Linked DNA regions of Homo sapiens: region 2 is linked to region 1. Evidence: fine-mapped expression QTL. A gene starts in region 1. The other region holds a variant in brackets. All regions are shown on one strand. Distances are from middle to middle.

Region 1 (15,277 bases):
AAATTTCACTGAGTGTTACTATACACATTACAATGTTAACTTTGCAAAGAGAGAAGACTTACCTGAACAATTCAAAGCTTGGGCAGAAGAAAAAGCAAGCAGGGTTGACTCTTGGGAGGGAGAATAAAACCTAGAGCTAAAGAGAAGAAAAAAAAAAGCATGTGACACAATGTCTGTCAGCAGCTGTGCTGCCAAAAGTCACCCAACAGGAAGAGCAGGCAGCCAGCGAGATGGAAACTGCCAGTGCAATAAAGCATCAGTGAGAGTCAGGGCTGACTGGGGCTGTGGATAAAACTGGAGCACACCTGGGACCAAGGAATAGCATAGTCCCTCCCAGTGTGACTCGAGCATCAGCATACAAATTGTCAGGCCCAACTTGGAGCAAAATTAGCATCAGTCACCTGATAATAGTAATGGTTACCCTACCCTTACAGATGGTAGCTCATATGACCATAAGATGTTGACCAGTGAAATGCACTCAGCCAGCCAAGACTTGGGCTGCCGCATGCCACATAATCTTTGTGGCTCTTGGTTTTTCATTCCAATAAAACTTTTTTGACCTCTGTAGAAAGCTGTAACCCATACAAAAGCTCTTATGACCATTTAGGAATTCATAAGATTTTTGGAAAATTCTACATTGTCTTCCTAAGTCCCCCATGTTCCTCAAGTGCCACCTGTGGTTGATCTTCCCAGGTGAATTGGAACAATGTACCCAGAGCACCCCTCCTCTGGCCCCACCCTGAAGGATGGAGGTCTCGGAAATCTGTAATGGGTGAGCGGACTTGTAGTCCTTACTCGGGGGTGTACAGATGTGCACAGAGAGCTGGCCTCTGAGAGCATCCCTTGCAGCTAAAGGCCACTGCCTGGCTCAAGTCCATCCACATCAGCAAATCTGCATGTTGTAGTTCTACAGAGACTGCTGCTCTTGATCTAATTAATAGTTTCTTTGTTTGCATAATTTTCCACAGGAAGGACTATTAGCACATCAAAAGGATGTTAAAAGTATCCTCCGTAATGATAGAGTAAATACAAACCTAGTTTATCACGTTGTCAGTTTTAACAAACACCACTTTGATGTGCTAACCTTTTCCCAGGAGGTGCCCCTCTTAAGTCAATAGCCAGCAACAGGCCCAGCCTGTGAACTAGTTGATGGTGAAAAACCAAAACAATCTCTGTAACGATATATATTTTTTAAATTCCAAAATATCTGAAAAATGCTGGAGGCATGTGTTTACTTTCCCTTCCTCCCTCCTCCGATTTAAAAGCTTTTGTAGAAAACCTGTGGGACTGATAGCACTTTTCTTCACACCTCAAGGGAGCAGTTTGAAAAATGTTTTCAGAACACTTACTTTCATAACACTCCAGGGAAAGAAAGAAAGGTGGGTCATTTACATAAAGTTAAGGATTTCTGTATACCCCGTTTCTGTCCTTCCTCTCAAAGAAAAGAGAGGGGGAACACCAAATCTCCTTGAAACTTTAAGAGCCCTCTGAGGTTTAACTCAAGAAAGAAAATGCCTCTGAAGGCAGACAGCAGAGAATGAGAGTATGACCAAGCGCCTCAGCTGTCCAAAACACCTCAAGGTGCAGGTTAAACCCAATAACGGTGATCCTATCATGGGACGGGATTGGCAAAGGCTCCTTCTGTATGGAAAGTATACTCAGTAAAATCACTCAGGCCTTTCAGTGGGAAGTTTGGCAGCTAAGTCCTGTGGAATGTTTTCAGTAACTAAAATTTAACTCCCTTAGCTTAAACAAATTATTTATTTAGTCACCTACATACTACATTCAGGCTCATTTTCTTAGGCAGAAGATACTGAACATAATTTTAACTTCTTTTTTATGGTTATTGATTGGCATGAGACTTGTCTTATTACCTGCAGGCTGGAGAAATAAGTTCAGAAACTAACAAAATATCACTGAGGCAACTAGAATGACATGACTACTGAAGTAAAAGGATACATAGGATCTGTTTCCATTACTCCTTCTTATGAGGAGTCTGATTATGTCTGTCATTTTCCTCCCCCAGGAAGCCCATGTGCCTCAGGAGAATCTGTCCCGAGCCCTTCTTCCCACCTAGACTGTATTCCAGGGGAGGCCTGATTTGGTCATCTCAGTGCTTTGTCAGTGGTTGGTTGAGAAATGATCATGTGAATAAAAAAAAAAAAGAACAGAAATGATCATGTGATATGTGATACTTTGGGCCAATGAGGCAAAAGGAAAGGTATTCTAGGAGCCTCTGGGGAAAATTTCCTTGTTCATCAGGGACAGCCATGGGAACAGTCTCTGAACATTGCTATCCACAGATGTGAGGCCATCTACTACAGCTGCCTGGCTGAGGATGAAGCTGTGAGTTGGGAAATGGATGAGCTAAGAGAACTACCGGGAAATGGGGCCGCAGTACGTGACTCCATCAACCTGAAAGCCTGAAATACCTCTGGACTTCAGCTTTGTGAGCCATCTATTATCTTATTTTAGAAGCCAGTTTGAATTTTCTGTTGCATACACATAAAGAAATCGTAACTCATACAAGTTGTCAACAACGAAGAACTTCTACATAGTGCTAATAATGAAAATTTTAAACACTGCCTTTATAAAAAAAGAATGTAATATTGACAAATGGGTGAAAAGATGATCAACTGTATTGTAATAGAAGTAAGAGGACTTCCTCTAAAGTGTGAGTGACTATATTATGAAACTGTTGAGCACTAAGCCTAAGAGACTGTCATCATATGGGGTAGTTTGAATAAGACCAAGAAAAATGATCTAAATTATTAGAAACAGAGATCTACCATGGTCATACTTAAACTTAGCATGTGACCTTTTGAAGAGAATAAGTAGATACGACATGGGGTACAGTTTAAAACAGTCCTCAAGATGCCCTGGTCAAGAGACCAGAGACTGTTCTAGAGGTTCTAACAATAAGAATACAGTTTCAAATGGAGCGGCATGGGCTGGAGGATGGTCAGCCTAATTTGTGTACACCAAGACCAGTTTTGTACATAAATAAAAATGGAAAGCTCCAAGGAATTGGGAAAATGTCCTTTCCCCATCTGAAATACTTCCCCAAATGCCTGCTGACTGAAATTATGTTAACTCTGGAATAAAGACACTCCTTTAACAAGAGGTAAATGACCTCAAATGCAAATTTCCACAGGAGCACTAATATGGTACTAAAAACTTGGCCATGCTAATGTGAACGTTTGTTTACTTTCTGTCTCAATATCTCCAGACTATAACCTTTGTGAGGCAGAGATATTTTTGTCCTTTTCACTGCTTTATCCCTAGTAAAGGACTAAGTGCCTAAAATGGTGCCTAGTCTTTTGTATATGCAAAATAAACATTTGTGAATGAATGAATGGCAAATATCTGAGCCTTTACCAAGAGCAAACTTTTATAGGAAGGAAGGAAAATCTCCACAGAGCACTATATGACTGAAAGAGATAAAAGGAAAAGTGAACCCTAAAGAAGTGAAAGGGGCAAGAAAATGAACAAAAGATGGGAAAGATTATATTTTTTCTTACTTCATTTAGTCTAAGACAGGCCCTGATTGAGTTCCCACACTAGATCCCGTGTCAAGGAGTTGGAAGACTCTGACATTCTAAGGATAGAGAATCACAGTATTTGAGCCATGCAGCAGAACCAGATTGCATCTTCACTCTCCATTGGCCCACCTGTCTCTTGTTCTCCAAATAGTAATTCCCTCCCCAAACTCCAGAGGTGAATTTATCATAAAGCTCAAGCTTCACTGCACCTCAAATTGATAGGAGGAACCCTAGCAGTGTATTTACTTGCCATATGTTTTGGCAAAACTTGTACAAGTGGGATTTTGTAGTCACAATAGGTGAGACTGTTGTCTCTTTGTACTCCAACTTCTCCTTATATCAGGTGGCATCCAAGGGGCTGCAGACATTCTGGGGAGGGGGGGCAGCTAAGGCAAGTAGAATTGGAGATACGTTCTTTTGGGCTGAATGCTGTTACAGGAATGGCTTTCAGGAAGATACCAACAGCCCACTGTGGAAACTCACCTGGTGTCATAACATAAAGGGGCATATCTAAAGGTTAAATCACAATATGAATACATCCGAGACCCTAGTAGAGGAAATGCAAGGTTTGAAATGGATTGGAACCAGAAGCTGGTCTGTGGAAAATTCTTTCCAATCAATTGTAGCAGAGGATTTAGTTTCTATTGACACCTAATTGAAAGGAAGTTCTCTCCTATTGGGAATGCACATGCAGATGCAGTGTACATGATTGTGTTTTTGTACTATACAATAAAACTATTTTTCATAGATTTACATATAAAGTCAATAGAAATAATTCTGATATCTAGCAGTAAACTGTAACAAAAAACAGTTGGGTGTGGTGGCTCATGCCTGTAATTCTTACACTTTGGGAGGCCGAGGCCAGGAGTTTGAGACCAGCCTGCACAACATAGTGAGACCCTATCTCTACCAAAAATTTCAAAATTAGCCTGGCACGGTGGTGTGTGCCTGTAGTCTCAGCTACTCAGGAGGCTGAGACAGGAGGATCACTTGAACCTGTGAATTTGAAGATGGAGTGAGCTATGATTTTGCCACTGCTCTCCAGCCTGGGCAACAGAATGAGACCCTGTCTCTAAAAAATATTTTTTTAAAAAAGTATCATTTCCAGCCGGGCACAGTGGTTCACGCCTCTAATCCCAGCACTTTGGGAGGCTGAGGGGGATGGATCACGAGGCCAGGAGTTTGAGACCAGCCTGACCAACATGGTGAAACCTCATCTCTACTAAAAATACAAAAGTTAGCTGAGCGTGGTGCCGTGCCTGTAATTCCAGCTACTCAGGAGGATCGCTTGAACTTGGGAGGCAGAGGTTGCAGTGAGCCGAGATTGCGCCATTGCACTCCAGCCTGGGCGACAGAGTGAGACTCCGTCTCAAAAAAAAAAATTCAAAATTAGTAAATCATTAAGAGGAAGAGATAAATTGCCAATAGAAATAATAAATAGGCTTTTATATTATTTAATGATCTAATCAATAAAAAAGAATGAGTTATACGAATATATTTGTAAAATATTTAAATTTATAATTAGACAGGAATGTTTATATTGACAAAGATAATATAAACCATAATACACCATTAGAAGGAGGACATAGATCACAAATTAGTTAATAGTGAATGCCATCAATTCATAGCATATTTAAGATTAGTCATTGAGAGACTGAAATGCCACCTCATCGCAGGAGGCGCCTGGCAGGGATGGAGCTGGTGCGGGCCTGGAAGTAGATGTCCTGGTTCTACTACCAACACCTGCTGGTCACAATGCTCTACATGCTGGAGCCCGAGGAGCGGAAGGTGCTCAATTCCACGCTGGTTTCCATTGATACGCAGGATACATCTTCATGACCCAGCACATCATGGCGATATTGCACTACTTTGAAATTGTACAATAACCAAGATTAGAGGTTCCTTGGGGAAGACCCACCCTACGAAGTTGGAATGACACCATCAGATGTGATAAGAAACTCTTCTAAATGTCAACCTAACCAACCTAAAATTCATGAGTAGAACAGGAAAATCACCGACTCATGTGTTGTGTTCTATATTTTTCATTTTAAAAGAAGCTCTTGCATAGTAGCTTTTGTCTATTTTAACATTGCAGCCATTTGTACTTTGATATCACTATTTTCTTTTCTTTTTTTTTTTTTTTTTTTTTTTTTTTTTTTTGAGATGGAGTTTCACTCTTGTTACGCAGGCTGGAGTGCAATGGTGCAATCTCGGCTCACTGCAACCTCTGCCTCCCAGGTTCAAGCAATTCTCCTGCCTCAGCCTCCCTAGTAGCTGGGATTACAGGCATGTGCCACCACGCCCAACTAATTTTGTATTTTTAGTAAAGATGGGGTTTCTCCATGTTGGTCAGGCTGGTATCAAACTCCCGAACTCAGGTGATCTGCCGGCCTCAGCCTCCCGAAGTGCTGGGATTACAGGCGTGAGCCACGGTGCCCAGGTGACATCACTATTTTCTTAACCTTTGTGACTGTTTCAATATTACCCCCATGAAAGCTTTTTTTTATGTACCTTTGAGTACATTATAATTGTCTTATATTTTAAAGTCATTAGTTGGGCTTTACTGTTCTTGCTATTGTATGACATATACATCTGCCTGGATATATTTTTACTCTTGACCAAAGTTTTATAAGAACAATATAAGATTTAGGGTAGGGGCATGGGGAGGAAGGATATTTTATTAAGAACTACTTAAAAGAACTACTTGCTGGGCACGGTGGCTCACACCTGTAATCCCAGCACTTTGGAAGGCTGAGGCAGGCGGATCACAAGGTTAGGAGATCGAGGCCATCCTGGCTAACACAGTGAAACCCTGTCTCTCCTAAAAATACAAAAAAATTAACTGGGTGTGGTGGCGGGCGCCCGTAGTCCCAGCTACTTGGGAGGCTGAGGCGGGAGAATGGGTGTGAACCCAGGAGGCGGAGCTTGCAGTGAGCCGAGATCATGTCACTGCACTCCAGCCTGGGTGACAGGGCGAGACTGTCTCAAAAAAAAAAAAAAAAAAAAAAAAAGAACTACATATATCAAAATATATTTTATTAAGAGCTACTTATCTGTAAGCTTGAACTCACAAGTATAGTTTTAGCTATCTAGACTCTAACAGCTTTTGCTTTAAAACTATTAAAGCATTTGTGGTTTTTTTGTTTTGTTTTTGTTTTTTTCTTTTTTGAGACCAGAGTCTTGCTCTGTTGCCCAGGCTGGATCTCGGCTGCAACCTCCACCTCCCGGGTTCAAGTGATTCTCCTGCCTCAACCTCCCAAGTAGCTGGGATTACAGGCACCCGCAACCACACTTGGCTAATTTTTGTATTTTTAGTAGAGACGGGGTTTCACCATGTTGGTCAGGCTGGTCTCGAACTCCTGACCTCGTGATCTGCCCGCCTCAGCCTCCCAAAGTGCTGGGATTACAGGCATGAGCCACCGCACCTCGCCGGGTAATGATTCTTGAGACAAGAGGTGGTTAAGTAGCATTATTATGTAATGTTTATATACCATGGAGTTTTTACAAGAAGATAAATCTATTTCCTCTGAGGGCCACTATTAACAATGTACTTCCTTAAATTTAGTTAAGTGATCGTAATACGTGCTGCATTTGCACATTGCATTAAGTTATGATGAGCTGAATTGTTACAAATTATAGCAAAAAGAAGTGTAAACTTGGCTAAAATCCTTCCATTCTTTGTATTTTTTTAAAGATTTTTATTCCTTAAATGCAAAATGACTACCTAATTTTTTTATGTAAATTCATTAAATTCAAAGAGAAAAAAAGATTAGTCATTGAACAGTAACAACAACGAAAACAAATTAGAGATACTCTGAAATCTTAGAGTTCACATATGACAAAAATTTGATGGAAATTTCCTAAAACTGTGATCCCAAGCATTTATGTGATAGTACAAATAATGAGTTATGAAGCTCACAGAAACTTTTCCAAATTCTTAATGAAAAACAAATTTGATCAACCATGCTACTGGAAAGACTAATCTATCTTTATATGTACCCTCTTGATAGAAAATACTACAAAAATCTTTGTTATATGAAGTCGTGACCCAAGAATATATAGAGCCAAAAAATGAAGGCATAATTATATAGGGGTGTCAGGGCAATTAAGTACCATGTATATATATATATTTTTAATTTTGTGATTCTTGTGGCAGTTAAATATTTTTAAAATGTGTAATTGATAGCAATTTCTTTTCTCACTTTAAATCAACACTCAAACCTAATTTTGTATAAATATTCTTGTCATCTTTTTCTTTTAAAAAGCCTCTAAAATTATGTAAGCTTCAGACCCCAAAAGGAGTAACTTATCAAGAGGAAAAGATCCTAGATTCACTTCTGCTTCTACTTATTCTACTTCTGGATTTATTAAACCATTACTCAGATTTTAAAACACACCACACACAAAGAAAAGTTTCTAAAATAAATGAGCTAACATGGATTTTTTTCATATTCTCCATCTTCTTGATAGCCCAGAGATCCTGATACTCTTTGGACTTTGGTAGTGGAATGGTAGATGTGTGTTGAGAATGGAAGGGAGTTAAGGATGGGGTTCTAGAATTCAGATGCCCTCTTAGGGTTTGAAATGTGGGGGAAAAAAAAAGAGAATCACTGCTTATCTTAGTCTGTTCGGGTAGCTGTAACAAAATACCATACCTGAGTGACTTACAAGTAATAGAAATGTTATTTCTCACATTTCTGGAGTCTGGGAAGCCCAAGATCAAGGTGCTAGCAGATTTGGTGTCTGGTAAGGGCTAACTTCCTTGTTCAAAAATGGTGCCTTCTTGCTGTGTCCTCACATAGTGGAAGAGGTGAGGGAAATTTGGGGGGCAGCTCTCATAAGGACACTGATCATTCATGATGGCCTGCCTTCACGAGACTCAGTCACCTCCCAAGGGCCCCCAGTTCCTAACAGCATCACCTATGGCGGTGAGGATTTCAACATATACATTTTAGGAGGATACAAACATTCAGATGATAGGCCAGAGCACTGACCTAGGCAATGGCATCTACAGAAAAGAGAAAAATAATTTACTTTTGACTTGAGGTGTCTTGGGTTTAAATCCCAGTCCCACCACTTAATCATTTGTGACCCTGAGCCCCGTGAGCTTTGATTTCTGCACTTGTAAAAATAGGCAGAATATTAAATACCTTTAGAGTTTTTCATGAAAACTAAATGCTACCTCTGAAGTTAAATGAAATTGTAAGAATGAAATAAATAGGGCTGTTTTAAAGAGTAAATGTGCTCAGTAATTGGTGTTCTGTAAATGTTAACTTCGTTCTGAAATATATAGAGCAGGATGTCAACTTATGGAAAGAATGTAAATATTTTTTGGTTATAAATACCAATGAATTTTTCTTACAATGCCAATGGATCTATACATACTATATGGATTATATTTAAGCTTTTTGCCTTATCTTAAAGCTAATAGCAAATAGGGCAATGATGTATATGGGCAATTTACAAAAGAAGAAACAAGAATATCTGGTAACATAGCAAGAATTTTTTAACATTTTCTTGGTCATCAAACACAATATAAACAATGAGATACCATTTTGTTTCTCACACTGGCAAAGATTAAGAAGAATGAAAATGCCCACTAGCTGGTGGTAAGGCGGGAAGGGGAAGGGTACACTCATGACATTGGATAGTTGGAGTTCAAATTGGTACAGCTGTTTTGGAGATCAATTTAAAAGTAGGCCCCCTCTCCAAAAGCAAAATAAAACTTTAAAAATGTTTACTCTGCATTTAAAGCTGAAAGTATGCCTTACTCTATGATTTAGTTATGCCTCTCCTAGTTTATATTTTTTGAAGTATAAATATGTCATCCAAAAGACATGTATAAGAATATACATAACAGCTTTATTCAGAATAGCCTAAATGTCTATCAGAAAAAAATAAATCAATAAATTGTAGTTTTTTTTTTAAAGGATACTATGAAGCAATAAAAAGAATGAATTACTGCTATACTCCACAGCATGGATGAATCTCACAGACATTATGTTGAGTGAAGGAAGCCAGAAACCAAAGAATACACACTCTATGATTCCATTTATATGAAGTTCAAGAACAGGGGATAGCTATTGACTGGGAAGAGGCATGAAAAGCATTCTGGAAAATGTTTAATCCATTGATCTGGGTGGTGGTTGTACCCATTGTCTATACACTTGTAGAATTCAAATCGCAGTACACTTGAGATTTATTCACTTTGTTGTATATATGCTATACCTCAATTTAGAAGTTTTGAGAAAACATACACTTTGACTTAGCAAGTATGTTTTCATTCTAAAGAAAAAAGTCAGAGGAGTACAAAAAAGGTTTACATACAAGAATGATCACCATAGCATTATTTATAGTAGCAAAAATCTGGAAATACAATCCAATAATAAGGAAGTAGTTAAATAAAATTATGATACATCAGATAGTAGAATGCTATAATCATTAAATCAGATAAAATAGAAGAGTCAAAAATATGGAAAGTTTTTCATAATATAATGTTCCAAAAAAAAGTAGGTTAACCAAACAGTATTTAAGATTTAATACTATATTTGCTTAAAATATACATGTCTGTCTCCCTCTCTCTCTCTCTATATATATATATGTATATTACATAATCCACATGCTTATCACACGTATCTCTGACTAATGGGATTGTAGATAATTTTCCCTTTCTTTCTCTTGTTTTAAGCAGTTTTCTATATTGGACATGTCCTGTTTTGTAATCTGCAAAAATCTGAAATAAAATGTAAAAGGGAAAAATGCTAGGTGTGGTAGTGCATGCCTATAGTCCCAGCTACTAGGGAGGCTGAGGCAGAGGCTCACTTGAGCCCAGGAGTTTGAGACCAGCCTGACTGATGCAGCAAGACACCATCTCAAAAAATAAAAAATGAAAATAAATAAATAAAAAGGAGGAGAAGGCCAGGCGCGGTGGCTCATGCCTGTAATCTCAGCACTTTGGGAGGCCAAGGTGGGTGGATCATCTGAGGTTGGGAGTTCGAGACCAGCCTGGGCAACATGGTGAAACCCTGTCTCTACTAAAAATACAAAAATTAGCCAGATGTGGTGGTGCACACCTGTAATCTCAACTACTCCAGAGGCTGAGGCAGAAGAATCACCTGAACCCAGGAGGCGAAGGTTGCAGTAAGCTGAGTTTGCACTACTGCACTCCAGGCTGGGTGACAGAGTGAAAGTCCATCTCAAAAAAAAAGGTAGGGGAGGGGATTGAAAAAGAAAGAACAAGAGTGAGCAAATCAACTCTCTATATAAGTAAGCTGTTCTGAACATTTACATATTGCATTCTAGGTATGCCCTTGATGAAGGTAGTTAACCTCTCTAAGCCTCAGGTCCTCTCTGTAAAATGGGAATAATTATTGCACCTAACTTATGGTATTGTTATCTGGATTAAATTAAATATTCTGTATGTAGTGCTTAGCAGTGTCTGACATATCATAAACACTTCATCAATATTAGCCATTACATTACTCTGGGACACTGGCTAAGACCCCTAGGTTACCAGAATTGACTTAACTGCTCTTGTCTTCTTTTCACCTTAGGTATCTACTGACCTGGTTATCGCTTCTTCCTTTAAGGAGTATTAGAACACTGCTGGGGATGGGCTGACAAACATACCAGGTATTGATGCATACAGTCCCCTGAAAGGTCTCATCTGATTAGGGACATTTATTCTGAGAACCAGGTCTCAGAATTCTCTTTTGGATGCATCAAAGTCCAACCGATTCTGAGAGCCAACTTGGTGCGTATCCCTCAGAGAAGCCTTGGGGCCCGGGTTCCACACCATTCTGTATAAAAGTGGAAAGTTAGGAGACAGCTGATTCGCTTTCTCTGTAGAATTATCTTCCCACAACTCACTGTAGAGGTCTATCACACAATGGGTTTTAGTTTCTTTTTTTCCATTGCTTTCCTTGTTTTCTATTTTCATTCTTTTCTAAAATTTTCATTTCCAGAGCTGCTTCTGGGCTCTCTTCTCCCTGCGCCAACCCACCCCCACCTCCTCCCCTTTCTCCCTCCTTCCTTTTCTTTCTCGCTCTTCCTCTTCGTCTCTCTTGAGACAGGTCTAGTGGCCTGGTTGCCATCTGCTGCCTTTTTTTTTATAAGGTTGAGATCAGATGGCATCTAATCGATCGTCATGGTCTCCATGGTTACCAGGGTGACAGAGTACTTGGGAGAGACACATTCTCGAGCCTGGGGCTGTCAGACCATTCCTGAGAGGGGAAAGGAAATAAAACCCCTTCCATCATATTTACACCTTTACATCTTTCTCAAATGCAGCAAAACACAGACCCTGTTTATGTTTTACATAGTGACCTAGTGGCTTGAGGCCAGGGAATGCAGAGTGGCTTTTTTCTATTTAAAAAAATGCACAAGGACAGAAGTAAAGGGTTTTTTGTTTTTTTGTTTTTTAGCCTCAGAACCATCCCTTCCCCTCCCTGCTCCATACAGACCATCCCTTTTATCATTTTTTTTTCTTTTCCCTTTAAATGTTTGGGAATTAATTCAGTAATTCTACTGAGTTGTTATTCTTCCAATAAATCATGGTAGTTCTAAAAGTGACAATTGACAGCTATTTGCTTTAGGGAAAGAAATAACCTTCATAAAATTACCAACACTTTCACTTTTGATTAGAATCAGTGTTAATGTTAATGTTAGTTGTTCTTTGGCCAAGCATTTGTAATATAGGAAGCCATTTTTCCCACAAAGAGCAGCTTCATATGATAAAATGTAAACAAAATGACCCTTATTCTTAATGCAAAAAGTGCTTAGGCATGACTGTGGTCTGTAATGCTTTAATGCCTAGGGGCTGGCCAGTCTGGCAGAAATACATCCAGGCCTTACTCTAATAGAATATGATGGCGTTGACAGCCCAGATCTGGTGGAAAGAGACGTGAGGAAGATCTTGGTAATAAGGATATATAGCTAATGGGAAAAGGGCTAGATTTCTGGAGTAACTCAGAAATAAGAAAACAACCAATTATCATACCATTAAATAATGTTAAAATTACATAAGGAATACCATCCTTGGCATATTAAAACGCCTTTAATATTAGGCACAGATGACTTGGGCTATAAGCTGCTTTACTTCCTTTTCTGGTAATATGTTATGCTTCATAACACTTACTAGAAATTCTCCCCTTTTTTTGTGTTTGTCAGAGAAAACCGAACTTAAAATTATAGCACAGGTACAAGGCCTATCTATAGGTGATTTTTTTTTCATTTAAAGAAAAAATATAATGCCAAACCATGAGCAGTGCTTGCTTGCTTCCTTCCTTCTTTTGTCTCTGACTTCCCTTCAGACCTCCTGCATCTTCTTCTGTACAGTTCCTAGTAAGATTCAGATATATTCATTTGCAGTGCCTTTGGCTGTTAAGCAAATAGCACAGTGATATTTGAAATAGAAATGATGCCATCAATTGGAGGAGAGACTTTAATATAAAGGGAAAATAATGTATCATGAACAAAAACCTTCTTATTCATTTTGGACCTTTGCATCTTAGCTAATGCTTGCCTCTCTTTCCCTCTCTGCAATTCCTCCTATTCTCTCCCTCTTTACTGGTGAGTTCAATCATTGAATGGCTGGGGGAACTGCTTTTATTTAATTCTCACCTCCCCAGAAAAGCTTTCCCCAAATTCCCCATCACAGACTTCTGAACTCCTAGTGTTCTTTTGGTCTGTGCTTCTCATTCAGGACTTAGCTGTGTTGCCTTTCACCCCGGCTTATGTATTTGTCATGTTTATCTGTTGCCTCTTATTTACATTGTAAGCTCCAGAAAAGAGAGACCATTTCCTCTGCTTCTGGGCTTCTCCCTTACTTTGTACCTAGTTAGCTCTTACTAAATGTTTGATAAAGATAATAGCAGCCTGTTGTGCCTACAGGGCAAGCGATAGCTGTTTTTTCTTTAAAGACCAGGAACCAAATTTGATTTTTAGCATTTCTTCAACTGCAGGGATTTTACTTTGTGTCAGCCAAGAGGCTTTCCTTACCTCCTTGTCTTCAGTACTCTTGTGCACAAGCATGCTTCTCAGAGAAGGTGGATTCTACCTTGGAAGGAAATGAGTCGTTTCCTCCCATCAGGACAACTGCCACAGCATGGTGTCAACTCACTCTTGCCTTTCGTAAATTGAGTTTGTCAGTGCTCAGCGACACAGCTGAGTGAAATGTTGTGTGATGCGGGCTGTCTCCTGGGAGAGAGAAACTGGCATAAACCACATCCTAATGGGATCCAGAAACAAAGAAGCGTGAATGAAGTGTTAATTGCATTCATAAAGACATTAACAAAGGAATTAAAATGGCAGAAGCTTCAGTCCCCCACTCAAGATTCACAGAAAAATATGTTATCCAAAGAATGTTTCAACAATAATCATCAAAGTTTATTGCTTGCCCATTGGGGAAATAACTCTTGATACATATTAACTTTTCAAAGAACATTTTGGGTCCATTATTTTGAGTATATTAACTAACAGACAGTTTATTCCACCCTACCTCCAGTTCTTTGCTTGCTTTTGTATGATTTAAGTTTCAAAAAAATCCAGAGGCATTTTCAGTGCTGCTTCATTAACCATAAGGATGTCTGTTAACAGTTTGAACCTAATCAATCCTACAGTTCTTATTAGAGCAAAATGCTCATTATCTGGGAGAATTTTTGCTTTTTGAAATAAAATTACAAGACTGGGGGTTTATTTTACAGTCCCTCTTGAATATTCCTGAGATGATCTGCAATGTGGGCAACCCGGGGCTCCCTCCCCAGCCCTGTGGCAGGGCCCCCCAGCTGCTGACAGCGGGGCTAAGCTGGCAAAAGGTCAGGAGGCTGCATTTCACTGAAGATGGATCGCACAGATGAATATTGCGCTTGCTTAATGAAGTCAAGGCCACGGATTTGGGGCCTTTTATGGTTCTTCTTGTTTCACTCAATTTCACCTTCATAGACCACGCCACTAATCCCAGCCAATCATTTTGTAGATATGTGCAACTGGTGACTAAGGGACTAGATAAAAGTAAATGAATCTAAAAAACAGTGACCAGAAATTCAGAAATCTCTGTGCCTATAACAAACTCAGAATTAAAAAAAAAAAGCATGCAGAGTGAGTGTTTCGTGATCCTTGCAGAAACTCTGTGAGATATATGGAGCCGACATTCCTACCTTCATTCTGCAGGTAAGAAAGCTAAAACTCAAAGACATTAAGTAAAGTCTCAGGATTAAAATTCAGATTTTTTTAATCATCTGACTGCTCTTTCTGCTGTAGTCATCTAACCCTCCCAGGATCTCATTTAATTTTCACAAGAATCCTATGAAGTAAGACAGGCTGTATAAACAAGTGGGTTGATTTTTCCGGGAATCATTTTTTTTTTTTTTTTTTTTGAGATGGAGTCTCGCTCTGTCGCCCAGGCTGGAGTGCACTGGTGCAATCTCGGCCCACTGCAACCTCTGCCTCCCAGGTTCAAGCGATTCTCCTGCCTCAGCCTCCCGAGTAGCTGGGACTACAGGCACATGCCACTATGCCCAGCTAATTTTTGTATTTTTAGTAGAGATGGGGTTTCACCATGTTGGCCAGGATAGTCTTGATCTCTTGACCTCACGATCTGCCCACCTTGGCCTCCCAAAGTGCTAGGATTACAGGCGTGAGCCACCATGCCCAGCCTCCAGGAGCCATATTAATGCCACTAGAGGAGCAGGTGCTCTCAAGCCTCTCCTTAGAATTTGGCTGAACCCCCGGTTATC
Region 2 (15,277 bases), 59 kb after region 1:
TGTTATCATTGTTCTGTTTTAAGCCCTCATTGGGTCCTGTTTGGGCCATTACAATAATGTCTAACTGGTGTTATATGCATTTTCCGCTGCTGCCAAATCATCTTTTAAAACTCACATCACTCCGACTTAAAACACTTCAGTGGTTCCCATCACCTGTAGGAAAAAGTTCCAGCCCCTTCCTGGTCTCTGTCAATTCATCAGACGTCATTTCAGATTGCATTTTCTGTTCTCACAATCATCAATTACTTCTGGCATATAGATCCCAATACAAGGTAAATAAACACTGAATATGTAGAAGAGTTTTTGACCCACTTAAAAACATATATTTTTAGGGAGTAAGACGAACTAATCTAATATCTAATTAACACTTAATTTGTTAATTGTATGTCATATAAAATATTAATTTATATATTTTTTCACTCAAATGCATCATGATGTCAAAGAAAAATCCTCAAAAGTTAAAAACATGACTCTCTTACCAATATAGAATTAATCTATGTCAAAGCTTTTATTGCCTTCAATAATTGATGAGGGAACCAGCAGGATGATAAACTGGTTCTAAGAGCATTTGAAGAAATTATTATTTACACACAAAAAAGAATGCTAGAACAGGATTGTTAGATTAGATACAAAACCCGTTAATGTCCCACAGGGTAATGAAATCATAGATTATCCTTCTAACTGAAGATAATCACTTACATCTCTACCACATACTAAAAAAATCTGTAAGTTGACAACTCACTGCACAGTGCCTGAGCTCTTATTAATAGAGTAAATAGTAAAGTCAAATGCAGGAGCATTCTCCTACAGCATTAAATAATCCTGGGGGCAGATCTGTTAAACAATGCTCCATTACTGCATTAAAAAACACACCCACGGCTGGGCACAGTGGCTCACGCCTGTAATCCCAGCACTTTGGGAGGCCGAGGCAGGCGCATCACCTGAGGTCAGGAGTTTGAGACCAGCCTGGTCAACATGGTCTCTACTAAAAATAAAAAATTAGCCAGGCATGGTGGCATGTGCCTGTAATCCCAGCTACTTGGGAGGTTGAGGCATGAGAATCGCTTGAACCTGGGAGGCGGAGGTTGCAGTGAGCCAAGATGGCACCACTGCACTCCAGCCTGGGTGACAGACCGAGACTCCATCTCAAGAAAACAAACAAACAAACAAACAAAAAACCACACCCACCTCTTCTTGCTGTCTTATTATTTCCAAGTTTAGGATAATTTTGCTTAACAATGAAAGTAAAACTTCACATGAATCTTCTACATCAGTGTTTTTGGCATCATGATCGTCTCTTCTTGGGTCAACTAACAAAGTTTTCCAGAACACAACATCTTTAGGTCCTTCTAAGTTTTCTCAGATACAGTACCCTTGGGATCTTGTGTACGTTTTTATCCACTTTGAAAAGGAGATATATATCTTATATAATATAAACACTGTGGAAAAGTGCATAGTTCTGTGGATGTTAAAAATGTAGGAATAGCTATCAAAATAATAATAATCTGTAGCTCTTCAAAAAAGCAAAAGAGAGAAAGGCGGTATAAAAATAGCTTTAACAATCTAACAGTTGGCCATAAAGGAAAAAGAAGATGATAAACAGAAAACAAAATAAGTTGGTAGAAATAATTTCTGATATACCGCTCCCAATAAATACAAACGGATTTAACTCATCTATTACAAGACAAAGATGGCCGGGCGTGGTGGCTCACGCCTCTAATCCTAGCACTTTGGGAGGCCAAGGCAGGTGGATCATGAGGTCAGGAGATTGAGACCATCCTGGCCAACATGGTGAAACCCCGTCTCTATTAAAAATACAAACGTTAGCTGAGCGTGGTGGCGTGTGCCAGTAATTCCAGCTACTCAGGAGGCTGAGGCAGGAGAATCACTTGAACCAGGGAGTTGGAGGTTGCAGTAAGCCGAGATCGTGCCACTGCACTCCAGCCTGGTGACAGAGTGAGACTCGGTCTCAAAAAATAAATAAATAAATAAATAAATAAATAAATAAATTAAATAAATAAATAAATAAAATAAAAATAAATAAATAAAATAAATAAAAGATAGACACTATCAACCTGGATGGAAAAAAGAAGTCCTCCTTTCATAAACATGCTGCTATGGTCTGAATGTTAGTGTCTGTCTTAGTCTATCTGTGCTACTCTGACCGAATATCACTGACTTGGTCATTTATAAAGAAAATAAATTTGTTTATTACAGTTCTAGAGGCTGGGAAGCCTAAGATTAAGGTGCTAGCAGGTTTGTTGTCTGGTGAGGGCTGCACTGTCCAAAGAGGAGGAACATTATATCCTCACATGGCAGAAGGTGGAAGGGCAAACGGGACAAATTCCCTTGTCATGCCATTTTATAAGGGCACCTAATCCCATTTATGAGGGCAGAACCCTCATGAGTAATTTACTTCCCAAAGGCCACACTTCCCAATACTGTTGCATTGGAAATGTCTGAATTCTGGAGGGAAACATATTCAAACCATAGCATTCTGCCCCTGCCCCCTCACCCAAATTCATGTCCTTCTCACACAAAAATACATTTATTTCATGTCAATAGCCCCTAAAATCTTAGCTCATTCCAGCATCAACTTTATAAAGTCTAAAGTCCAGAGATATGGGAACCAATGCATGGTTCATCCTGAGGCAAATTCCTCCCCAGCTGTAAACTTGTGAAATCAAACAAGTTATGTGCTATCAAAACAATAGTGTACAGGCATAGGATAGACACTGCTATTCCAAAAGGGAGAAATAGGAAAGAAGAAAGGGGTAACAGGTCCTAAGTAAGTCTAAAACCCAACAGGGAAACCCTGTCTGGTTGCTTTGCTAGCAGCAGTCCCCACTTCACTTCTCACTGGCTAGGGTCACTGCACACCTCCCAATACTCTTGCATTGAGAACATCTGAATTTTGGAGGGGAAACATTCAAATGACAGCAGTGTCCCCCTAAATTAGTGTTGGAACCTAATACCAAATGTGATAGTATTAAAAAGTAGGGCCCTTGAGAAGTGATTAAATCATGAGGGCTCCATCCTCATGAATGGGATTAATGCTCCCATAAAAGACTCTGGAGAGCTCTCTTGTCCTCCTACTGTAAAGATGCGACAAGAAGGTGACATCTTTGAAGCAGAAAGCAGTCCTTCATCAGACACCAAATCTACCGGTGCCTTGATTTTAGACTGCCCAGCCTCCAGAACTGTGAGCAATAAATTTCTGTTGTTTATGAATTACCCAGTCTAAGGTATTTTGTTATAGGAGCCAAAATAGACTAAGACATATGCCTTAAGCAGAAAGAAACTTACAGGATGAACATAAAAAGACTATATAAGAATAAAAAGATTACAAGGAAAATACAAACAACAGAAAAGGTGATGCAACAATATTGATATGAGACAAAGTAAAAAAGACCAAAAGCACTAAAAAGAGCTATTTCATCACGATAAAAAAGATTCAACTAGTACCTTTATGAGCACACAGAGACAAAAAGAGAACTTGATAAACTCAAAAATGATATTAATTTTGGAAAATTTTGATATATTAAAAACTGATACATTCAGCACAGAAAAATTAAGTAATAATATAGACTACTTAAATAAAATTAGATCAACAAGTTTGATTAATAGTTAGAGAATCTTGCACACAACAAGTGGAGAATATATGTTATTTCAATACACGTGGAACATTGAAAAAAAAAAAAGGCTACGGGCTGGGCATGGTGACTTACACCTGTAATCCCAGCACTCTGAGAGGCTGAGGCGGGTGGATCACTTGAGGTCAGGAGTTTGAGATCAACTTGTGCAACATGGCAAAACCCCATTTCTACAAAAAATAAAAATGAGCCATGGTGGTGTCTGCCTATAGTTCTACCTACCTGGGAGGCTGAGGTGGAAGGATCACCTGAGCTGGGGAGATTAAGGCTGCAGTGAGATGTGATCAAGCCACTGCACTGCAGCCTGGGTGACAGAGAAAGATACTGTCAAAAAAAAAAAAAAAAGAATAAAAAGAGAAAAATCACATATTAGGTCACAAAAAATTAAAACAATTTCCAAGATTTAATATAATCTCTGTCTACAAAGCATATAAATTATAAACAACACTAAAAAGATGGTAAAAAAAATAGCAACCTTTAATTGGAAACAAAAAATGCACTAAAAATAGCTCATTGGTTAAAGAAGAAATGACAATGTCATGAAATATTTAAAAGTAAAGACAACAAAAGTACCACATGACAAAACTTGTCGGATGGAGCAAAGTCCTATAGAAAGGTAAGTACAACCTTAAATATAATTATTTTATTTATTTATTTATTTCTGAGACAGAGTCTTGCTCTGTTGCCCAGGTTGGAGTGTAATGGCACAATCTCAGCTCACTGCAACCTCCTTCTCCCAGGTTCAAGTGATTCTCCTGCCTCAGCCTCCTGAGTAGCTGGGACTATAGGCCTGTGCCACCACGTCCGGCTAATTTTTGTATTTTTAGTAGAGACGGAGTTTCACCATGTTTGCCAGGCTGGACTTGAACTCCTAACCTCAGGTGATCCACCAGCTTTGGCCTCCCAAAGTGCTGGGATTACAGGCGTGAGCCACTGAGCCCAGCCACACATAATTATTCTTCAAAAAGAAATATTAAAAGCAAAGAAGCTAAACTTCAAGTCATGTGGCTAGTAAAAGAATTACAAAGTAACAAAAGTAAAAAAAAAAAAAGGAAAGAATTCATATAATCAATGAAATAAAAAAATTCACAAAACTTTTTAAAAAATAATAAAGTAGACAAACCTCTGGCAAGACTGATAAGATTGGAACAATAAAGATGAACACTATTCAGAATGAAAAATGGGACATAAACAGTTAGACCCTTATTTTTAAAAATCCCAAGAAAACAATATGAACTAGTTTATTCCAAAAACAATTTCTAAACTAGATAAAATAGAAACATTTCTAGAAAAAAAGTGGTTCAAGAAGAAATGCAAAGACATACGAATATATCTAGTTATACACACCTATTTATCTTTACCCATTATCTATAAATCTGTAATAAAGAGGCTCCCCCTGCAAAACAAGCTAAGTCTAGATGGTTGCAGGAGAGTTTTACCAAACACTCACACTCATGTTATGAAAGCACTATAAAATCTTACTGCCAAATCTAGACATAAGCATCAGGAAGAAAAGAAAATTATAGGCCTAGTTCGCTAGTCACAGATGTAAAGTCCCTAGACAAAACACTAGCAAATTAAATTTGGCAATAAATAGCAATATCGTGAGCAAGTATTAATAGGATTTATTCCAGTAAAGTTCAATATCAAAAAAACTATTACCATAATGTACCCGATTATCAGATTCAAGAAGAAAAACAATAGGATCATGTCAATAAATGCAAAAAGCACTTATTAAACTTCAGCATTTATTAATAATGAGGATTCGTAGGAAACAGCCAAAGAAGGAAACTTTTTAAACTATTAATAGTACTTATACAGAAAACGTTTCCTTAAGTAAGAGAGAGAAAAAAATCTTAAGAGTTTATAGAGTTTACAGTTTCCAACCCACTGATAAATTCAATTACAGTGAGCATTCATTTAATTGCTAAAAAAAGAAAGCAGCTGACCAGTAAAGCCTAGCTACCAATACGCTGCAACAGACATCACAATTAACGGAAAATTTTGGAAGCATAAGAAGGATACTGGCAGGTCAAGGACACTAGCTGGTCGCCATTTCTATTCAATGTTAAACTAGAAGTCATGGTCTAGACAATGGAATACTATGCAGCTGTTAAAAAGACAACACATAATAAACAAAAAGGCAAATGAGGTTAGGAGGTGGAGGCATGAGGGGACTAACGCAGGTGTCCAGCGTCCCTTGGCCCTGCCACGCTTTTTTTTTTTAATTTCCACCTGACAAACTGCCGTTTATCCTTTAAATACCTTGGCAGCCATCACATCCTGCCCCTTCGTCTTTTGCACTTCCTTTGTACCTCGTGCATACTTCTATAAGCAAATGTATCCGACGGTTTTACAAGAATTTGCTTGCCTACCAGTGTACTTAACCCATGGCTAGCACAGAATAGGACTGGAAAGAAATGCTGCACAGACAGCACTTTTCTCTGAAGGCTCTAGGGCTCCCCAAGCCCCCGCATTAAACTGGTTTGGGCAAAACGACAGGCATTGCTGAGAGCCGCCAGGCCGCCCGCCAGCTGCGGGTCCCCTGTAGGCAGAGCCCTGGGTCACACGCGGACGCGGTCCCGATGTTTCTTCTCAGGCCCTCAGCCCGGCCCACTTCCTCTTTCCTCACTTTAAGGCGCAGACAGCGGTCCCTCTCAAAACAAAACGTACACCAAAACACCATTTTTTTTTTAAACAGGAAGTCCAGAGGCCCGGGTCCAGGGCATCCAGCCCCGGATCTCGAACGCCCTCCTCGCCCCTCGCCCCGCGTAGCCCGGCTGCGCTCCCCGCTCCCCGCCCGGCGTCCACCTCTCGAGCCTGACAGCCCCGCCGCCCGCGCAGGCGCCCCGCCCCGGCCCGGCCCGCCCCGGCCCCGCCGCCAGCGCTTCCATCCCCGCCCCGGCGGGTCCAAGCCGGTGCCGGGCGCCCAGGGGTTGCCGCGCTGGGCGGGAGGGCAGCGCCTGAGAGGGCGGTGGGGTGGCGGGGTTCCTGCGCGCGGCCCGCCATGGAGGTGGAGGAGGCGTTCCAGGCGGTGGGGGAGATGGGCATCTACCAGATGTACTTGTGCTTCCTGCTGGCCGTGCTGCTGCAGGTAAGTCCCCGCGGCCCCGCAGCCGCATTTCCCTCTTCAGGGCCGCCCGGCGCAGGGCTAGGCGTCCGCTCCCAGACCGCCGGGGCCGGGGCCGAGGCCGAGGCTCTGCAAACACCGAGGTGTGGCGAGCGTCGGGGTGGGGCAGGGGCGAGGCGCCGCGCGGTGGCCTGGGCCCGGCCGGCAGCGTCAAGGTCGCCGGCCGGCCTCAGAGCCTCTTGGGTTCTGCTGGGCCCTCCACCCCGCCACCTTGAGTGGTGGAAGGAGCGTGTTGGGGGAGGTTTCTCAGCCGCTATGCTGGTTAAGGAGGGATGCAAAATTGTGTTACCTGCCCTACGCTGTTGCCTATAACACGCTGCAAATATGAAGGGAATTGTTACCCTACCTGTGGCACTGTCACCTTGGAATCTAGGACACAGTCTTGATAATCTGCAGACAAAAGGTTGTGTCTAGGATCGCCTCCCTCTGCGCCGGGTGTCCTCTGCCTCTTTTCCTGGGCTTGAGGGGGCTTACTCTTCTAGGGGCTTTCAAAGCATAGGATTTATTTCCCTCTGGTTTAAGTTCTGCTGGCTCATTCGGCCCTGCGCCAGCCTTGGGCTGAGACTCCCGTGAGCCGAATAGTGC[C/T]ATCTACCATGTGTGGTTATCAAATGGAATCACTTCTTCATTATAAAGAATTCTCAGAACCTACTTGTACACCCCAGCCTCAAAATATCGATTCCATATGCGAAAGGTCACTACAGATTAACTGCGCCAGGCAAGGATTAGTCCTTCACCAACTTAAATGGCTCATTTGACATTAGTCGCTTCTCTCAATATGCCAGAGGCATTTCATTCACAAATCCTTTCTTAGTATTTGCTGTGAGCCAGCCATTTTACTCTTTCCTTCAGTCATCAGGTTTAATACGGGCTAGGATGTGCTGAACATAGGGATGCCATGGTGGACAAATCATTGACTGCCCTCAGGAGCTTGCATTCCAGTGGCTGCGGGTGGGGCAGGCAGACAGTTAAGTAATTTAGTTAGCATGTGATGATAGTTATTCTGCAGGAAGTACAGAGTGGTCATGGATATAGCCACCAGTCCACAAGTTGCTTAAAGCTTGCATAAGACAGTGGCTCAACAGGAAGATGGGGGAAGGTAGGGGTTGACTTATTGATTAAAATGTTTGGAAGTTCAGTTGATTTCATCATCAGCCAGAAACGGTTCAAATGATGGAGTCAGTTCTTTTTCTAGCCGAACAGTTCTCAGCTCACGAATATGTGGTATTCTGAAGTTCTTTTAAGCTCGTTGTTTTAGCTTTAAACAAGCTTTCCCCAGGGAGAAAAAACGTTCAAGCTAAATGATAAGAGTATTTAATACCGAGAAAGAAGAATTGCAACCATGATGCCTGATCTTTATTTATAACAGTTTCTTTGAGAAAACCCTTTTTTTCTGTTCCAGCCATGAATTCCAGGAACATACATCCTTTCTTGAACAATCCCAGCTCCCCATCCCTCTATCCCTACCCTTCACTTCCTGTTATCATTTTCTTATTTGCCTAGCCAAGTATCCACTAACTTGGAGTAAGTTTGTCTTCAGTAGAGTGAGGTTCTAAAAAGGCCAGTGTTCTCGGTTTAGGACCTGTTAAGTTTCTCTAACTTACTTTTATTTATGGTTGACCCAGTTAGTTAGAGTTTGCTATCAAAAAGTTCCAAGCCCATGCCTATGACCGTTCACTAAACCTTGGATGATTTATGGTCAGTATTTGCGGTACAAGGACCAGGTCTTAGAGTGTTGGGGATGAGTGACTGATTGTTTATCTTATAGATGTGGGTGGGAAGATGCCCTGTAGCTGTGCTTATACCAGTGGAGGAGATGCCAGCCTAGGCAAAAGTGAATCCTTCACATGCTACGTGTTTTTAAGGACTCAGTTACCCCATTGAGATACATGATCCAGGGGGTTGTAGAGCCACCCAGAGCTACCCTGGGTATGAGAGTGGATATCCCCAAAGACCTCTCTACCAAGTCTGTTGTTGGAGATGTTTTGTATTACGGCAGCTGGTCTGTGGAGTGGGAGTACTGTGGAGTCCCATTGCTCAGTTGTATCACAGGTGATTTCATCATTCTTGGGGATGAGGTTTTGCTTCCCCCAGCAGAGTAAGAAGCCCTTTTTACACAGTTGCCTTAAATGAAAGGGGGTTTTTCTGCTTTTAAAATCAAAGGAGTTTTCGTACCATTGCCCAAGGAAGGGGCAGACCAACAACACAGCAACAAGGCCAGAGAGAGGGAGCCTCTGCTTCAGTGGGAGCCTTCTCCCCATCTGCGATTTGATAATGATTAACCCCAGCTGAGAGGCACAAAACCAGAAGGACAGAGGTGGAAATTTTACAGGCCTTTTAACATTTTCCTTCTTCTGGGACCATTATTATTATTTTTAAAAATGATTTTCCCTTTACCCCAAACACATCTATGTTCAAACTAAGAGGACAAAACCACATAGCAAAGCCAATTCTAAAGGGTTTTTGGTTAACTGTTTTCTTGAATTATTGGTACCATCATGTAGATCATCAAAAGTTACTTCACTATCCAGTTTCCTTTGGCTAGGAGACTTGCCCTCATACTCCTTGCAAACACAATTTTTGGAATCTCAATAGCATTCAACTTTGAGATAACTAAAGAACAGATGCAGATTTTGCAGATTTTTCCTCAGCGTAAGATGCAAATGCCCTGAAAATGGTGATATGTGGTATTAATGTACATAAACAAAAAGTGAAGGGAAAAAGATTGCCTATGTAAAAATGGTTGACTTATGAATAAACAATAAGCTTTACAGTTAGAAACATTCTTACCATCAAAATGTACTTGCTCTCCCTAGGATCAGAGCTATCTGCGATATTTAAATAGGAATAATTCTATTTAGCATATTACTGTTTCTCTTCTGATGGTGATTCCGAGTTGCTGCCATCGTCACTATTTTGTGTTTGTGTATGTGTTTGCTTGTTGTCTAGGCTCTCTGGAGGAGGAGGGTTGGAATACAATTCATTGTTTCTTGATTCCTTTAGACATGCAATGAAAATGGACGTTACTTCTTTGTTCTAAGCCAGAGGCTCCTGCTTTGTCATTTTCCTCAAAATCATGAATCGTACATTATATTATAATTTGCACAGAATTTAAAGCCCCCATTTACTATCAGGAACATGTAATCTATAACAAGCATTCACCAGCAAAATTGTGATGCTGTGCTATGAATCTCATCTTAGATTCTGGTGTTCAGGAATGCATTATTTTTATATATATATTAAGTATATATATATACTTAATAACCTTATTTTTTAGATCCTGGAATGACCAGTGCATTAATATTATCCATGCAATAAATAGCTTTTCTCAGCATTTTAGAAAGTAGAATGATTGCAGAAGAGGAAACTGTAATAGTCAACACACGAAAAGATGTTTTAACTTCAGTGGTCATCTGGGACAGGCATATTAAAATGGATATGAAATACCATTTCACACTTGCTATATTAGCAAACATTAAACAATCTAACAGTACAAGTGTGATGAAATGATAAATAGAAACTATACCCCATTTAGAGAACAATTTGGCACCATCTAGTAGAATTAAAACCTAGCATTGAACTCCTAGGTACACATCCCACATTGTCCCTTGAGCACGTGCATAGGGAGATATGTGTAAGATGTTTACTGCAACACTGTCTATTATAACAAAAGTTAGAACCACCTGACTTTCAAAACAAGACTGGATAAGATGTGGTATAAATTTAATAGAATACAACGTCTGAAATAAATGAACTAGATCTATATATGACTATATGGAGGAATTTCTAAAACACAATGTTAAGTGAAAAAAAAGCAGAACAGTGTATACTATGTGACACATATTCTTAATACAAATTTTAAAAACACACAAACCAATGCTATATTTGTTTCATAAATATATATAAACAGTATAGAAATATAAGAACATGGAGTAGAAAGATCCACACCCAATTCATGAGATTGGTTGCCTCTTGGGAAGGAAGGGAAGGGGTGGGCTTAGGGGAGGGTACAAAGGAGATTGCATCTGTTATCATTTGTTAATTGTGATAGTAGTTTCATGAATCTTATTTTTTGCTTTTCCATATTAAATATTTTTAAGTGAAAAGATGGTAAAGGGAAGAAGATATGCATATCTAAGAGAGAATACTATAGTTTGCTGTATGAGAATAATGGTTCATTCTTTTTTAAAAATCAATATTCCTTTGATCAATTATGGCTGTGAATTGTGGTCCTTTAAACACAGGAGGGTGGGGTAGAGTGAGTTTTATTCAGCCTGTTTTGTTAAACTTCATGTAGAATGCTATCACAGCTTACCTTCCCTATCTGCTTATACGTGGCACCATGTCCCTCCACAGGAAATTCTTAGGTCTGATGAGATATGGCTGAGATCATAGCTGGTTCTTCTAACCTCCCTGGCATAAGCAAGTGATGAAGTTCACACCATAAGCATTAGTGAAGCTCTTGTTCAGTTATAAAAGACTAACTGTCATCCCCAGGATGTTCTCACCATCACTGAGGCTTCAGCCATGATGAGAACCTATGGTCTTACTAAGACCCTTTCATGAGTCCAAAACATGTGGCCATTTACCAGGGCTCTCTGTCAGTTTGAGCAAGTTTTATGCAGCTCCTACTGTCAAATTTTATTTCAATTAGCCCTCACACAGTGGCCTGGAGGTTGGGTCTCCTGAGGGTTTATGGTGATCTGGGAACTTTTGCCTTTCACCAGTTTAGGTGGGTGGGGCAAAGAGACAAACACAGTGGTTTGGTCAAAGAAACCAAACCCACACTGGCCCCCACACCCTCAGGAAAACTGTTGTTGTCCATAGACAGACACTGCCCCCTAGTGTAAAGCAGATAAAGTTGTTGATCTATTAGACAGATTTTCCTCCAGGGAGGCTGTAGAGATACAGGAGGCCTCCAGAAGGGTTAAGGAGCTCCTTTGAGCCTGGATGTCTCAAGAATTAGGACATTCCATGGAAAGCAACTAGACTGATACCTCTGCAGCACCCAAACCCCCAGCCGAATGCCTTCCAAGGCCATCCCTGGCTGTTTGACTTGTGCCTTGACAGTGAAGGTATTATCTTCCAAGATAGCACAAAAATAGTCATTAAAGTCACGAGGACAGGCAATGTGAATATGGCAGAAAGAACACTAGGCTTGAATGTTGTGCTACTCTGCTGCAAGATGGCATTATTAGGCAATTGTTATTAGGCAAATGACCCATCAGTCTCTACTGTGCACTTGGAAATGGCTGGATCACGAAAGTTTAATTTGTTTTGCAAGTTTAGGATTTCTCAGAGTTTCCCAATGCCCAACAATTAATTGGCCTTGGGGCAGTGTTGACCCTAGGTTTCAGAATACCAGCTTGGTTCATAACCACAATTAGAGGTTGCCTTAGAAGAAAAAGACTCTCAAATCCAAAGATGCACACAGCTCGGGACTCTCCTCTCTGACTTCTTTGACCAAACACTCATGCAAATTGATATCTGCCTTCATGGGACATCATATAGTACTCAACAAATGGCATATGGTGATTGTAGAAAAAAGAGAAAATATAGAAATTAATACAAATCACTAGTGATTCTACCACCCTAAAGTAAAGCATGCTCACATTTTGGTGTATAGCCTTCCAGACTCTTTATTATATAAATATTGTATATCCATCTTTTTTGCAGAAATGTGTATCATAACTGCATTTTGTCTCTCAGCAATGTTGTGAATGCGTTGCTATGCATGTAAAGGAACAACTACATATTTTTTAGTGGCTGTAGCATGGTATTTCAATATATGGCCATAGTATAATTTGCTATTCAGTTCTCTTGTGTTGCATATGTTATGCTTCCTCTTTTTCAAGTTCACAAACCCACGCAGCCCATGGTATTGGTTCTTTCTTCTGTTCTGACCTTTACTTCTTGCCAGTTGATTGTTTATCAGTCTTCTCAAGCCCAGACTTCTCCTGATTCCATTCATATAGTTCTACCTAGATGCTTTTTGTCCCAACTTCATGGATAAAATAGAGGTTAGCTGGTGTAAATTTTCTAAACATCGTTTCCTTTTACTTCAAAAGTTTTTTTCATCCTCACCTATCTTAAATACCTTCTCTGTTAGGGAACATGTCCAAGAGGAAGACATGTTTCTGCCCTCTTGCTAGGGATATCTTTTCACTTTTGTTTTTGATTCTATGTAATCCATCAGTTATTTCTAATCCTATCTCTTTCTGCATTCTCTGCAGAATAGCCTGCATGGTAGATATATGGAAATTGTATTAAATAGCATTAACTCTTAATAAGTGATAGAGTTATGCCCTTCTGGAGCCTTCTTTAGTTGTGTTTATCTAAGGAGAAAGTCTCATTTGGTGTTAGCACTTCTAAAAACATTTCCAAATATTTCTGTTTTAACAAAGGGAATGAGCTAGCATGAAAGAATTAGAGGAGCTTCAGTAGAAAACATTATCTAGTTGGAACTTAATATTATTCTGTTTTATTGTATTTATTCATTTTCTTTTAAAACTTCTTTTAAAATTATGAGACATTTCTGATGGAAAAATACAGAGAGTAATATGACAAACGCACATGTACTTGCTTCCAGATTTAATAAATGCAGATATTTTGCCTTATTTGTTTAATGTTGTGTCAGTCATAGTTCTACTGGAGAAGCAGGACCCCTAGGATGGAGATGTGTGTGTGTGTGTGCACGCGCACATGTGTGTGTATGTGTGTTTATGTAAGATTATATATGTATAATCGATGCATCATTCATTATGGAGATTTGACTGTATACTGTTGCGGGAGCTCGTTCAGCAGGCCCTGTAAGGCTGTTGTCTTCGTGTGTGATGTTGGAGCTTGAAGTCTGCAGGACAGGCAGTCGAGAAGGGAAGATATGATCTGGAGCCCATCAGAAGTGACTGGAATCTGTGTCATTCTCCCTGCCTCCAACCTTGATGAAGTGGCTGCCTTTCATCATAGAATTAAACATGTACCTGGGCAAGGAGTCAGAGCAGCTGAAGGAGGATCCATGGGAAGGTGGAGTGGTTGCAGCCTCGTGACTGTGCCACGCCAATGAGGTGGACCAGCACATAAGTGGTAAGCTATGTGAGGCACTAAGGCACCTGCCCCAACCTGGGCATAAAATGCAAAAACAGCTGCTCTTTCACTTTCACCCCTCTCCCAAATCTAGCCTGAAAATGTCTCCTGTGGCCCACCTTAAATAAAAACATACTAGCTAACACTTGGCATTCTAACATTGTGCATATTTTTGTAGTTCCACCTGCCAAGTGATGTCTGAATTGATATAAAATTCTATTTTATGTTAATTTACTAAAATTAAAACATTTGAATTGATTTTAAAGAAGACTATTGAGTAAATACTAGCAGACAGAAAATGGGCATGTGAAAACTAGCAAGGGGTACTCAGATGACTGAAGTTAGGGAAAAGCTGAGCTAGCCATATAATTCTTCCCAGTTATGTAAAGATATATTCTTTACTTTCCTGACTCTGATTGGGCTATTGCTTTACCAAATAATTTCTTTTCCTGAGTTTTGTTTTCATTAACTCCTTAGCAGCCTTTACTACCTGCTCAAGTATCATATTAACAACCTTTTCCTGATTCTCCTAGGTGGAATTCACATCTCCATTCTTTGTGCTCTCATGAACTTCATTCCCAGTATGGCTAATATAGCATTCATCACAATCCACCTTGTATTTACAGCTTTGGATATACAGTCATGCCCCACATAACAATGTTTCTGTCAATAATCACATATGCGACACTGGGCCCATAAGATCATAATGGAGCTGAAAAATTCCTATTGCCTAGTATTTCCTGTGCTATATTTTTAATTGTTATTTTAGAGTGTACTCCTTCTACTTGCAAAAAAAAGTTAACTGTAAACCAGCCTCAGGCAGATTCTTCGGGAGACAGTCCAGAAGAAGGCATGGTGTGATAGGAGATGAGGGTTCCATGTCTTCAGGATGTTGTTTTCCTGAAGACCTTCCATTGGGACAAGATGTGGAGGCAGAGACAGTGGTATTGATCCTGACTCTGTGTAGGTCTAGGCTAATGTGTGTGTGTCTTAGGTTTTAACAAATAAGTTCAAAAAATTTTTAAAAATAGAAAAAAGCTTATAGAATAAGGATATAAAGAAAGAAAATATTTTTGTACAGCTATATAATGTGTTTGTGTTTTTAGCTCTGTTACTACAAAAGAGTCAAAGAGTTAAAACATTTTAAGTTTAAAAAGTAGAAAAGCTACAGTAAGTTTAATTATTATTGGAGAAATAATTAAAAAAATAAATTTAGCCTAACTGTACATTGTTTACAAAGTCTACTGTAGTGTCCTAGGCCTTCACATCCATTCACTCCTCATTCAGTGACTCACGCAGGGCAACTTCCAGTCCCGCAGGCTCCGTTCATGGTAAGTGTCCTTTACAGGTGTACCATTTAAAAAATCTTTTATTGTATATTTTCTATGTTAGGTATGTTTAGAAATACAGATAC

Which allele goes with the higher level. Alleles are on the strand shown, and positions count from the first base shown. SD is a standard deviation of normalised expression in the study named.
For the expression in prefrontal cortex of the gene that starts at base 8,105 in region 1, allele T in region 2 goes with a lower level than allele C (moderate effect, 0.58 SD a copy in CommonMind).

The links. PIP is the estimated chance that this variant, and not a neighbour inherited with it, causes the effect.
Region 2: its variant is fine-mapped to the expression of LINC01649 in prefrontal cortex (CommonMind, PIP 0.95).

Annotation. Positions count from the first base shown.
Region 1 is chr1:115,911,272-115,926,548 of GRCh38, forward strand. It overlaps LINC01649 (long intergenic non-protein coding RNA 1649), which reads left to right and starts at 8,105. Exons shown (of 3, transcript NR_125969.1): 1 at 8,105-8,288; 2 at 11,096-11,174; 3 at 13,505-14,637. It overlaps LOC101928977 (a long non-coding RNA gene), which reads right to left. Exons shown (of 5, transcript NR_125970.1): 3 at 13,542-13,739; 4 at 12,800-12,881; 5 at 11,302-11,341. It also overlaps the pseudogene LOC101928952.
Region 2 is chr1:115,969,968-115,985,244 of GRCh38, forward strand. SLC22A15 (solute carrier family 22 member 15) reads left to right here and starts at 6,546. Exons shown (of 12, transcript NM_018420.3): 1 at 6,546-6,747. The coding sequence starts at 6,661. It overlaps LOC101928977 (a long non-coding RNA gene), which reads right to left and starts at 7,309. Exons shown (of 5, transcript NR_125970.1): 1 at 7,130-7,309. RefSeq lists silencers at 6,393-6,622, 6,683-6,932. The variant C/T (reference allele first, on the strand shown) is at 7,369.